2 linked regions of the Homo sapiens genome follow. The protein of the gene in region 2 purifies or fractionates together with the protein of the main gene of each other region. This does not show direct contact. Each region holds a gene or a part of one and is shown on either strand. Other genes may lie near its edges.

What was found. Proteins that work in one complex are often made in the same cells at the same time.
Region 1: the proteins of ARRB2 (region 2) and IGF1R purify together in Homo sapiens (affinity purification with western blotting; 4 studies listed by BioGRID). This does not show direct contact.

Annotation. Positions count from the first base shown.
Region 1 is NC_000015.10:98,959,539-98,965,030, reverse strand, and holds the end of IGF1R (insulin-like growth factor 1 receptor isoform 1 precursor), read right to left. Parts: 3' UTR 501-5,492; downstream 1-500. UniProt on the Homo sapiens protein: Receptor tyrosine kinase which mediates actions of insulin-like growth factor 1 (IGF1). Binds IGF1 with high affinity and IGF2 and insulin (INS) with a lower affinity. The activated IGF1R is involved in cell growth and survival control.
Region 2 is NC_000017.11:4,705,789-4,713,747, forward strand, and holds the start of ARRB2 (beta-arrestin-2), read left to right. Parts: upstream 1-4,843; 5' UTR 4,844-4,933; coding exon 4,934-4,956; intron 4,957-4,970; exon of another isoform or gene 4,971-4,985; coding exon of another isoform or gene 4,986-5,101; intron 5,102-7,959. UniProt on the Homo sapiens protein: Functions in regulating agonist-mediated G-protein coupled receptor (GPCR) signaling by mediating both receptor desensitization and resensitization processes.

The sequences.
Region 1 (5,492 bases), on a different chromosome or scaffold from region 2:
CAGCTAGAAAGTAACTAGGACTTTGGAGCTCCTCCAGTGACCCACATTCTGCGTGAGGCCCACTGGGTTCTCACCAGCATCCCCCCGAGGTGGGCATGTCAGCTGTGAAAGACCAAAAAGCACATGGGAAATGTGAAGAACTGAAGTCCTCTGCCTTGGGGTCATGCAGATCAGACTTGCCTTGGCCTGACTGTTGTTAGTGGAAGGTATAGGAAAAAAGTCTACAAATCAGTCGGAACTGCAGTACAGAGTTTCGTAATTTATGTATTCAAATTTCTTTCCAGATGATTTAATGGAGGGAGAAACAGATAGCTTCCCTGTCGTCTTTACTGGCAATCTGCATGCTGAGAAAGCTCAGCTGTCAGAGAAGAGGCAATGCTTTTCTGGAGAACGCTTCCAGGCAACATGCGTGAACACACGTGCCCCACATAGCTCAGCTTCCCTGCCACCAAAGTGTAGTGATGCTTCCAGGAGGGACAAAACCAAACCAGAGACAGAAATGCATACAGAATTATTTTATTTAACTTAAACCATGTAGTACTTTACTAGAAAAAAGCAGAGTAAGAGAAACTAACGTTGCCTTAGCTTCAGCCATTCAAAATAGACAGTTTCTTTTTTCCATTATGTAAAGAATCCAGAGTATATCGCAATAACAGGAATAAATTCTTACAACAGAATATACAAAAACATTTTGAAATTTTTTTCATCTACTGATTTTTTATATAAACAGGATTTTTTAGGAATAATTTATACACAGAAAGTCATTTTATGTAACAAATTGGCCATGTTATTACCTTTTTTTTTCTTACTTAAAAAAATTTTTTTTTAACAAGAAAACTCAGAAAATGCATTATTTGCGGTGCATCCATTCCATCCCGCCTTCTGGTTTGATTTTTTTTATCCCAGACAAAGGGATACCCAGAGGTAGACAAACTCTGGCAAACCTCTCACCTCAACCTCACTGGCTTAGAAAGCAGACAGGTGTTTTCACCGGGCGTCTCTTCCACCGGTGGATGTGTGTGTGCAACGCCAAACATCCAAATGAAAAGTTGAAAACAAAACCCAAATAGTTTCCAGATCTTTCTCCTATGTAGCGCAAAAACCCCAGGTGTTTCCCATGATAGAGATATTGTGGAGTTGGGGAGACATGGCCAACAATCCACTGGAGTTAGAGGAAGTGGAGTCAACTTTAAAACCAATTTTTGTGTATGTTATAGTTTTTATTAAAAATTCTTTTCTGTATTGGAAATACGTATCTTCGGGGTTCTGCCTTAAATAAAATAGGGTCTCTTCTGTGTTCTAACAAAGCAGTAATCAGTCATGATACGAGGCATGTAAGCAAATGGCCTGTGTGCCCCATAGCTGTCATCGTTTATGTGATCACTGTGTATGCTGTAATCATCATGAAAACCATTGGCTGTGCAGTCAAGTCTTCCCATGTCCATGGCACTGTGCTGACAATGACGGCAGCCAGACCAATCAAGCCAGATGCCGAACGGTGCCATGCACTGCTGGGCTCCAACACCTCGGCTGTTTCCATGGCCAATGAGGTTCTTTCCATCTGTTAAAGTAGCTACACTCCAAAGGGAAATGACCAGTAAAAAATGATCCCCTTCCCAACCAGAGGGTTCTGGAAGACCAAGATACTGAAGATACAGAACTACTTTTTAAATCATCATCATTCCTTTGTTATAAACTAGGGCAAAAAGCATGGGGGGAAAAGAGGGTGAACCACGGATGGGGTCAGGGAGAAATCCTTTTTTGGCATATTGTAAAGCTAGCTAGTAAACAGGTGTCCTAAAAAAAAAAAAAAAAAATGGATCACAAACACACATTTGCACACACAGAGAAAAAAAAAGTGTCTTTAAATTATTTTCGGCAATTATAAACTACAAACATTTTATAAAATTATTCTGTTCTTACAAAAATGCAATGAAACATTTAATTAGTTCTTGTAAACCAGATCTTCGTCAACTGACTACCCGTAATCTACTGGACTTAAGAGCCCTATTGAAAACGCTAATGAGTGACTAGTTAAAACAATGTTGACCAGAAAGATGCGGACACACACACGTGGGACATAAAAATGAGTGATCGTTATGTTCTCGCAGAAACAAAACGCTAAAGTCATGCCCCAGAACTGACAACTGACGAGTGCGATGTAGTTTGTGTTCTTGAACAATTCGCCTTAACTCCGAGATCAGTTTCCAGAGTAGGATGTTAGGTTTCTTTGTTGAAACCAAATGCCCACGGATGACTGCTGAGCCTCGATGTGGTCTGATAGCTTCAAGAACAATCAAGTTCAAAACCTTGCCCACATTCCTTCCAAGCCCTGCACCCTGCTGCTCGTAACTCTTCTCTGTGCCAGGATCCCTGTGACAATGGTTCTGTACCCACCACCCGGTCATTCCACCATCAAGGAGCACTCACTTCTCCAAATGACGCAACCAGTCATCTAAGATGAAGGCCAAAAATGAAACCCTCTGACCTGTCCAAGGTCTGTATCTTCAGCATCTCTGGCAACAGAGGTTCAGTCTAAATAACATCCTCTCTTGAAGTTCTCATTTGTACCACCAGCTACTTCAGAGTGAAGAAAGAAAGTGTCTTTCGCCACTGGTTCTTAAGGAGTGGATCTCTGGTCCACATCTCCCAATGCTGCTTAGCCCAGGAAATGAAGACAGCTGACAACACAGAGGAACATTAACGAAAAGAACAAACCCCAAACTTGAAATGCATAACTGGGACTGCTGGAATGGGCCAAGGCATACCACGGCGGGTCACTGTCACCAGGAGGGCGCCTGTGTTTTAGAAGGGAGTGGCCAACACCGTCTGGCCACCCTGGAAGGAGCCAACGTGACAGCTAAGAACACTAGACAAGCATCCTAGCCTTCTCACCCATCGATCTCAGTGTGATCTTGCCACAGAGCCACTGGCAAGCCATTCGGCTGCCAGCCTGCAGAGGTGGACTGCTGTGGGAAAAGCTTCAGTGGAACAAACTGGCCTAGAATCTGGTGCCAGAGAATAGTTGGCTCATAAATCTTTTATCCCAAAGCACCCCAATGTGCACCGAGCATCTCGCCATTTGGTAGTTCCACAGTGACTGCTCTTCTATTTTACGAAGCCACTTTTCGTACCATTGAAATGTGACTCCGCATCTTAAGAAACAGGCCAGGAGAGGCCAGGTCGGCCACGAACACGGTCTTCCATCTTCCAAGGAGGAGGCTCGTTCCAAAGGTATGTCAAACGTCATGACATCCCACGAAGGAGACCTGGGGTGGTCTGGGTCTTGATCAAGTTCAACAGTGTCTCCAGTACACACCAGCTCCTGCTGCCTCAGGGAAGGGCTGTGTGGGAGAACGTCTTAATGCTCACATCAATTCCATGATGTGCCTCAGTGGTTCATATGACTTCAAGCAGTGTGAGCTGCTGGCAGAAGGAGGTTGCATGGAAAATGCCACAACTCAGCTTAAGATTATTTGGAACACACAGAGAAAAATCAAGAGGCAGAGAAATCAGCATGAAGTTAGGCTAGAACTGTGGATAGATGATGCCTTGGTATAGTCAAGGTGGGTGGGTTGGTCCAGTAAAGTGACTGCACCATCACACAAGCCAAGTTTTCTCTTTTATTGAGGTGTTTCTGAAGCATTTGCTATGATGGGCACTACACTGTTAGTGTTTTCTACTTAAAAGCTACCTACATAAAACAAAAACAAAATGACATCAGTAACTCGGACAGTTTAAACAAAACCCTTATAACCAGCTGAATGATCTGTAGAAATCCAGTTGTGGAAACCGGTAGGTATGTGCACGAGAGGAGAGGCCGTTATTCCAAGGGGTCACCTACAGTGTGGAAGAACAAAACCCTGATCCAACAGTATTTCTCAATGACCTTAAGATCCCCGGGGTCCTGGGAGAGATGGGTCGCGTTCCAGCAGGAGGCTCCTGAGCGCCTTCACTTAGGCTGGAATTGCCGAGGAGCCATCCACGCTTAGGCAAAGCTGCCCGCCACACTTCCCAGCGAAATCATCAGTGCCTGTAAGAGCAGCTGCTGGAAGAGGGGAGCGAGCCGTCTGTCCTGTGAGCAGCAGGACCAGGGAGACGGAGGTACAGCCCTGGCGGGGGGGGCGTGACGCCACGAGCCTCGGCGCCGGCCACTGGGCTTTCCAGCCGGAAGGTTTGGTACATCTCTGTCTACCCCTAGGGAAGGAGGTGAGGGAGAAGTTGAGAGGGCAGCCTGGAGGGGGAGGGGACTCTGCTCCTGCGTGTGTTCTATCAGGGACTGGCTGTGAGGTCAGGAGCCTCTGCATTCTGGCGCACAGGCTGGGTGACTCTTGCTCTCCAGCTGCTGCTGCAGCTGCACCTTTGTGCTCAATGAATGCAGCAGCCATGGCCGCACGGTCCTGCCTCAGCGCGAGCCTCCTGCAGGGATGGAGCAGCAGCAAGGGGAGCAAACCCAATGCCCCACGCCTTTACCCTGGGGATTCGCACAGAGATGGTGCTGCCTGGACACCTTCCTCTCCTCAGAACCTGAGGAACCACTGCTCTCTTAAGGACGAAATGTGTTGGTCATTCCATCTGCACAGAAGCAGTTTGTTCCAAAGACAACCAGCCAGGGACAGCCTGGTGGCTCCCCCAGGTGTGCTCTGGTGCCCTCGTTGGCCTCACAGGGCCACCTGGCTAGGAGGAGGAGAAATCTAACACCTTGGTGGAAACCAAGATAGAAAACAAAACAAAAAAAGCAACACAAAACAGGACATCTCAGAAAAAGGCAAGCTGTCTGAAATGAGCAGAGAGGTGAGTTAGTGTTGCTTTGACCCCGGAATACAGCCTGGCTTCCCCCTGCATCACCTGGGTGTGGCGCCTGTGGCGTGGATGAGGTTACCAGTATCAACGGCCTATTGTCAGGTGCTGAGAAAGGTGAGATGTATTCTTTTGTCTATATACACATATAAAAAATAAGAGTGAGGTAGATAAATGTTTGGGGGAAAAAAAACCCAAAAAATCAAGAACTGTCCCATCACTCTCACACACACACACCCCACACATACACACACACACACCCTTTCCTTGAAATTTAAATTCATAATGGGGCTTTTCTACAGTGATTGAAACTGGTAATTTATCACAAAATAAATTAAAAGAAAACTCCTACATATAATACCTTTTTTTTTTTTTTAAAGGGAACACGCTATGGGATAGAGACTAGAGAAAGCAGTGGGACAAACTGCTGACCAGCAAAAAAGCCGTATAAACTTTCTTTTCTGTGTTGAATCTTCAGTCACAACTAGCAATCACCGTATCCCAGCTTTGTTCTTACTCCTAAACATTTCTATCCCAGAAGCAACTCTTGTGCTGTCATCTCTCTGGTGAGAAGTGCTAAAAATGAAACAAGACAAGACCCCTGGGCCCCAAGGACCTGGATTCCTGGCCGAGGGAAAGTGGGCCAGCACCACAGCCCTGGTCCCCCAGCAAGAAGCAAAGGGGCTCTTGGG
Region 2 (7,959 bases):
CCAGGCTAGAGTGCAATGGCACGATCTCGGCTCACTGCAACCTCCGCCTCCCAAGTTCAAGTGATTCTCCTACCTCAGCCTCCCAAGTAGCTGGAAGTACAGGCACCCACCACCATGCCCAGCTAATTTTTGTATTTTTAGTAGAGACGGGGCTTCACCATGTTGGCCAGGCTGGTCTCAAACTCCTGACCTCAAGTGATCTGCCGGCCTCAGCCTCCCAAAGTCCTGGGATTACAGGTGTGAGCCACCCCACCTGGCCCGTTTTTCCTCTTATTGCCTCCTATCCAATCCTTCAAGTCCTGGCATTCAAGGCCTCCAAAATACATTAACCCAATAGCGTTAATTTTTCTCCATCTCCACTGCCGCTCCGGTCCAAATTACCATTCACTCTCACCTAGTCTATTACAAAGCCTTCGTTGCTCTCTGCTTCCCTCTTAGCACCCTGTAGTCCCTTCACACAGCAACCAAAGTGGTCTTTTCAAATGTAAACAAGTTGTTGTCACTCCTAGCTTCAACCCCTCTGTGGCTTCCAAATGTGATGAGAATGAAATCCCATCTCGTCACTGAGGCCTAAAAGAATCCACCCAATCTGACTCATACCCACCTCCCTGACCTCAACACATACCACAAGTACCCTTTTCCTTCTCTCTTCCTATTCTTGAGCCACGCTAGCCTTCTATTTTCCAGCAAAGCCCATTCTCACATCCGAACCTTTGCACATGTTGCTGATTATGCTGGAGAAACTGTCCTTTGATTCTATGTAACTAACGCCATTTTGCCATCCTGAGACGACTTCTTTTTCGGTAGCTCCCACTCCAACCCCCATCAGCCTCCATCACATTTGCCTGTTTATAATTCATGTCATTACCAGAAATTTGCTTTCTTATTAACTATCTCTTGTCTAAAATACAAACTCCATGAAAGGGCTCCTGTCTCCTACACTATGCTATTCCTATCACCTAGAACAGTGCCTGGTACATAAAAGGTGCTGAAAAAATATTTCCCCAGGCTGGAGTGCAGTGGCATGATCACAGCTCACTGCAGCCTTGACCTCCCAGCTCAAACGATCCTCCCACCTCAGCCTCCCTAGTACATGAGACTCTAGGCACTAGCCACTATATTTGGCTCATTTTTCGTTTTTCGGAGGTTTTTTGTTTTCTTTTTTCCTCGAGATGGAGTTTCGCACTGTCACCCAGGCTGGAGTGCAGTGGCGCGATCTTGGCTCACTGCAAGCTCTGCCTCCCAGGTTCAGGCCATTCTCCTGCCTCAGCCTCCCAAGTAGCTGGGACTACAGGCGCCTGCCACCATGCCGGCTAATTTTTTGTACTTTTTTGTGGAGACAGGGTTTCACCACGTTAGCCAGGATGGTCTTGATCTCCTGACCTCGTGATCCGCCCACCTCAGCCTCCCAAAGTGCTGGGATTACAGGCGTGAGCCACCACGCGCGGCCCGTTTGTTTTTGAGACGAAGTTTCACTATTCTCACTCAGGCTGGAGTATAACGGCACGATCTCAGCTCACTGCAACCTCCGTCTCCCAGGTTCAAGTGATTCTTCTGGCTCAGCCTCACGAGTAGCTGGGATTATAGGCTAAATTTCACGATGTTAGCCAGACTGGTCTCGAACTCCTGACCTCAGGTGATCCACCCCCCTCGGCCTCCCAAAGTACTGGGATTACAGGCGTGAGCCACTGCACCCAACCCCCTCTGCTTTAAAAACCAGTACTGGTTCCACATGTCCTTCTGTGGGGCCCTCCATCTCACTCCATCTGCTATACAAAATCCTCCACAGCCTGTTCCAGACTTCCCCACCAACACTACGCAACAGGACGTGCCTTGTCTCTCTCTTTGAAATGCCCTTTCTCAACTTCTGCCCAGCCAGGCGCGGTGGCTCACACCTGCAATTCCAGCACTTTGGGAGGCTGAGGCAGGTGGAACACAAGGTCAGGCGTTCGAGACCAGCTTGGCCAACATGGTGAAACCCCGTCTCTATTAAAAATACAAAAAGTAGCCAGGCATTGCAGGTGTCTGTAATACCAGATACTCACGAGGCTGAGGCACAGAATTGCTTGAACCCAAGAGGCAGGGGTTTTGTTGAGCCGAGATCCCACCACTGCACTCCAGTCAGGGTGACAGAGTGAGACTCCATCTCCTAAAAAAGAAAAAAAAAAAGAGGCTGGGCGCAGTGGCTCACATCTATAATTCCAGCACTTTGGAAGGCGCAAGCAGGCGGATCATTTGAGGTCAGGAGTTCAAGAGCAACCCGGCCAACATATTGAAACCCCATCTCTACTAAAATATATATATATAAACTAGCGAGGCGTGGTAGTGGACACCTGTAATCCCAGCTACCCGGGAGACTGAGGCAGAACAGCTGGAACCCAGGAGATGGAAGTTGCAGTGAGCCGACACAACACCAGTGTCCAGAATTTGTAGGGGGTCTCACTGACTTTAAGAATGAAGCCATGGACCCTCACAGCAAGTGTTACAGTTCTTAAAGGCAGCATATCCGGAGTTTGTTCCTTCTGACGTTCGGATGTGTTCAGAGTTTCTTCCTTCTGGTGGGTTCGTGGTCTCGCTAGCTCAAGAGTGAAGCTGCAGGCCTTTGCGGTGTTACCCCCCTTAAGGCCGTGTCTCCGAAGTTATTCATTCTTCTTAGTGGGTTCGTGGTTTCACTGGCTTCAGGAGTGAACCTGCAGACCTTCCCAGCGAGTACTACAGCTCATAAAGGCAGTGTAGACCCAAAAAAGGAGCAGCAGCAAGATTTAACCGCAAAAAACAAAAGAACAAAAGGTCTACCTAACAGAAGAGTACCCCAGTGCATTGCAATTGCCGGTTCAGGCAGCCTGCTTTTATTCTCTAATCGGCCCCACCCACATCCTGCTGATTGGTTCATTTTACAGAGAGCCGATTGGTCCATTTTACAGAGAGCTGATTGGTCTGTTTTGGCAGGGTGCTGATTGGTGCATTTACAATCCGTGAGCTAGACACAAAAGTTCTCCACGTCCCCACTAGATTAGCTAGATACAGAGTGTAGACACAAAGGTTCTCCAAGTCCCCACCAGAGTAGCTAGATACAGAGTGTGGATTGGTGCATTCACAAACCCTGAGCTAGACACAGGGTGCTGATTGGTGTGTTTACAAACCTTGAGCTAGATACAGAGTGCCGATTGGTGTATTTACAATCCCTTAGCTAGACATAAAGGTTCTCCAAGTCCCCACCAGACTCAGGAGCCCATTTGGCTTCACCCAGTGGATCCCGCTTGGGGGCCGCAGGTGGAGCTGCCTGCCAGTCCGCATGTGCTTGCACTCCTCAGCCCTTGGGTGGTCGATGGGACTGGGTGCCTTGGAGCAGGGGGCGGTGCTCGTCGGAGAGGCTCGGGCCGCACAGGAGCCCACGGAGGGGGAGGGGAGGCTCAGGCATGGCGGGCTGCAGGTCCCGAGCCCTGCCCCGAGGGAAGGCAGCTAAGGCCCAGCGAAAAATTGAGCACAGCAGCTGCTGGCCCAGGTGCTAAGCCCCTCACTGCCCGGGGCTGGCCGGCCACTCCGAGTGCGGAGCCGCCGAGCCCACGCCCACCCGGAACTCGCGCTGGCCCGCAAGCACCGCGCGCAGCCCGGGTTCCCGCCCGCGCCTCTCCCTCCACACCTCCCCGCAAGCTGAGGGAACCGGCTCCGGCCTTGGACAGCCCAGAAAGGAACTCCCACAGTGCAGTGGCGGGCTGAAGGGCTCCTCAAGCGCGGCCAGAGTGGGTTCCAAGGCCGAGGAGGCGCCGAGAGTGAGTGAGAGCTGCCAGCACGCTGTCACCTCTCACCACTGCACTCCAGCCTCGGCGACAGAGTGAGACTCTGTCTCAAAAAAAAAAAAAAAAACAAGAAAAAGAAAAAAAACTTCTGCGCATCCTTCAGAAAGACTGTCCTCATCTGTTCCCCGCTCTGGACAGCCTGCACTCCCTCCACCCCCGCCCGGGCCAATTGCTGTTAGCGGCTGTGTCTTCTGACTCAGACCTCTGTAATAGCATTCCTGGGTAATACCTGTGTATGTGTCTCCTCAACTATTCTAGGAAGGCAGGGGCCATGGTAATTCGTATGTGTCCCCATCGATTGGCATAGTGAATAGCATAACATAGGCACGGATGGATGGGTCCATAGATGGACCGATGGATGGGAGCGGGTGAGTGAGTGGATGTTAGCTGGGATGGGTGGGTGAAGGAGATGGATAGTCAGAGACATTGGAAAAGGGAACCCTGCGAAGATCAAATGCAAACACCAGGAGGAGCTGACACGCTGCAGTGAAGAAGCGGGAGGGCTGGCCACAGAAGGCGGCACGCTCCGAGTGGAGCAGGTGAGCGGCGCGCACTGAAGCAAGCATCACGCAATTGAACCGCTCACCCACGTGTTCCCCCCCACCATCCTCCTTCCCAGACGGCGCTTCAGCTCATTCCACCGCCCCCAGCAGCCCGGTCGCCCCCACCGCCACTGAGAAAGCAAACAAAGGGGAGGAGACCCCTGCAGGTTCTGGATGCCGAAGGCCAATCGAAAGACTTAGATCCCCTGGAAGGCGGGCGCCTTGGTTTAGGGGGGTCCAATCGGTTTCAAGGGGTTGCAGCGGGGCGGGGAGATGGGCGGGAGGAGTGGGAGCTGGCCCCGCGCGCGGGGGAGGGCTACCAGGCTGGGAAGGAGCGCGAAGGGCTGGGGGCGGAGCCAATGGCCCCGCGTGTCTGCTAGGAGAGGGCGGGCAGCGCCGCGGCGCGCGCGATCCGGCTGACGCATCTGGCCCCGGTTCCCCAAGACCAGAGCGGGGCCGGGAGGGAGGGGGAAGAGGCGAGAGCGCGGAGGGCGCGCGTGCGCATTGGCGCGGGGAGGAGCAGGGATCTTGGCAGCGGGCGAGGAGGCTGCGAGCGAGCCGCGAACCGAGCGGGCGGCGGGCGCGCGCACCATGGGGGAGAAACCCGGGACCAGGTAAGGGAGGTGGGGCCACGCGGCGGGGCATGGGCGGCGGCTCGGGGCGGGGGCTGGGACGGTCCCAGACGAGGGCGCAGCGGAGAGGATCTGGGGGCCGGACGCCTGGGTCCCTAGGGACAGCCATCCGGGGCCGCACGCGCAGGTCCTCGAGGATAATGAGGGTGGGGGGGAAATGCCCGGGCCCCTGCAGAAAGCGAGGCCTGAGGGGGATCAGAAAAACCGGTGTCGGGGTTCTCGCAGGGATGTGGGGCCAGACTACTGGGCTCTCCCGTGCAGGCTGCGATGCAGGGATGGAGGAAGGAGGAGCAGGTGGCTGGCCCCGAGGGGTCGTGTACGGGGAGGCTGGATGCCGGGACGGGGGGGATCCACTCCAGACTCGCGCCAAGCCAATGGAAAGCCTCCTATCCAATATCCCCCAGGTAGTCGCGCTGCCCACACCTGTCCCGAGGGCCGGGTGGCTCCTCACCCAAACTTCTACCTTCCCTTGGGTTGCCAGGAGCAACAGCTTCATCTTGGGGGAGCCGAGTGCGTGGCGACCCTCCCTGAAACTAGATCGTATCCCTCTCTCTGGGGGTGGGGGAGGCAGTATTCACCCTGGGCGCGCGTCCACTCCCCGGATGTTTTCTGTGCAATCGAGGCTCTTTCCTTCCACTGATACCCCGAGTTCTCTTTTTTGGTCTCTAGCAAAATCCACTTCCTGTTGTGACTCAACACCCCCAAGGGGCAAGGGGTGGATGCCTGAGTCGCAGGGGAGCGGGAGCAAAAGACGAAAAGGTTGGGGCTGTAGGCCTCAACTCAGAGGGTATCAGGAATAGGGAATTGGTCCTGAGCTCTGGCTTGCTCTGCAAAACATCATATCAACCCCACTTCCAACCTATAGAGTATGAGAACCCGGGTTTCTGAGCATCAAGTAGACGAGCATCAGAAAGAGATCATCAGAGAGATGATCCGTCTCCTGGATCAGGGTTTAAACATCCCAGAGAAAGGGGAAGTTGCTGACTTGTGGGAGGCCCCTGATTTCCGTCATGTGGTTCAGGGAGTGGGACGGATGGACCAAAGGAGACTGCTAACTTGGCACAATTTCCCTCACCCCCATGAAATTCTGGGCCACAGGAAATGGAGCGAATAGCAGGAAGTGTGAAAGGACATCTGCTTCAGCTACCCCTGCTCCCACTGGGCACCTCCCTGGTCATCCCCACACTCTGCCTCCTTGGCCAGCCTAGTATATGCACGCTGCTCCTCCCCAGCCTGGCAGGAGGTGGCTGGGTTAGGATCCAAAGGGCAAGTGCCTTGCAGCTGCTCCAGGGCAATTGCCCCAGAACCACACTCCAGTTGGCCCACTGATTGTGGCTGTCACAGCCCTGTGCCAGGGCTCCTAATGGGAGGACACCCTGGGACAAAGAGGAAAACCAGAAGCAAAGGGGAGGGAGAGCCTGGATGATGCCACGGCACTCAGCTCCCAAGTTGGGATGAAAGATAGGGTGTTTATTCTAGCGGCTACCATATCGATGTGTATTCTCTTTTATTGGTTAGGAATACCTGGGGCCCTCCATACCCTTTGCCTTACAACCTTTGGACAGCTTGGCTTTCTGGGAAGAAGGGGCAAGTGAAGTTGTAGCAGAAACTGGGCCTATGGTAGAAACCATGTAGGGCCAAAGGCCAGGGTCATTGCTCTCCTATATGCTCCAGCTGTCAGAGCTGGAGACCAGATGGAAAGATGGTTAGGTCTTACCCAGACACTGTGGTAACCTGCCCATTGGGGTCCTCTGGGAATGGGGTGGTAGACTTGGAAGAGGGATGGGCTAGTTGGCAGGATTTCACGTTTCTGCTATCTATCTGAGGATCCTTTCCAGGGATCACTGCTGAGGCAGAGTGGATTGGAAGGAGTAAGGTGGTGCTTCAAAGAACAGGCCCACAATTGGCCAGATCACTGGGGTTGCCAAACACTTCCTTACCCTCCCAGCAATGGGTGGAGTCCAGGCTTAAATTGTTTCAGCAACTGGAAAGCAAATAACCTTCAATTCAACAAACTATTTATGCCAACTGCAGAGACAGATAGTGTAATATTGATCGAGAGGATGGACTCGGAGCCAGACTGCCTTGGTTTCTATTAATTCCCACCATTTACTCCCTCTGTGACCTTGAAACACTTGACCTCTCTCTGCCTCAGTTTCCTCACCTGTAAAACAGAGATATTAGGAGCTCCATCACTGGGTGGTTTTATTTAATTTAATTAATTTATTTATTTATTTATTTTTTGAGACAAAGTCTTGCTCTGTCACCCAGGCTGGAGTGCAGTGGCTCAATCTCAGCTCACTGCAACCTAAGGCCGGGCACGGTGGCTCACGCCTGTAATCCCAGCACTTTGGGAGGCTGAGGCGGGTGGATCACCTGAGGTCAGAAGTTGGAGATCAGCCTGGCTAACATGGGGAAACCTCGTCTCTACTAAAAAAATACAAAATACAGGCCAGACACAGTGACTCAAGCCTGTAATCCCAGCCTTCTGGGAGGCTGAGGCGGGCGGATCACTAGAGGTCAGGAGTTTGAGATCAGCCTGGCCAACATGGGGAAACCCCATCTATACTAAAAATATAAAAATTAGCGGCCGGGCGTGGTGGCTCACGCCTGTAATCCCAGCACTTTGGGAGGCTGAGACAGGTGGATCACGAGGTCGGGAGATTGAGACCATCCTGACTAACACAGTGAAACCCCATCTCTACTAAAAATACCAAAATTCGCCGGGCGTGGTGGTGGGTGCCTGTAGTCCCAGCTACTCGGGAGGCTGAGGCAGGAGAATGGCGTGAACCCGGGAGGCAGAGGTCGCAGTGAGCCGAGATCGCACCACTGCACTCCAGCCTGGGCGACAGAGTGAGACTCCGTTTCAAAAAAAAAATTAGCCAGGCATGATGGCAGGCACCTCTAATCCCAGCTACTCAGGAAGCTGAGGCATGAGAATCGCTTGAACCCAGGAGGTGGAGGTTGCAGTGAGCTGACAGCGTG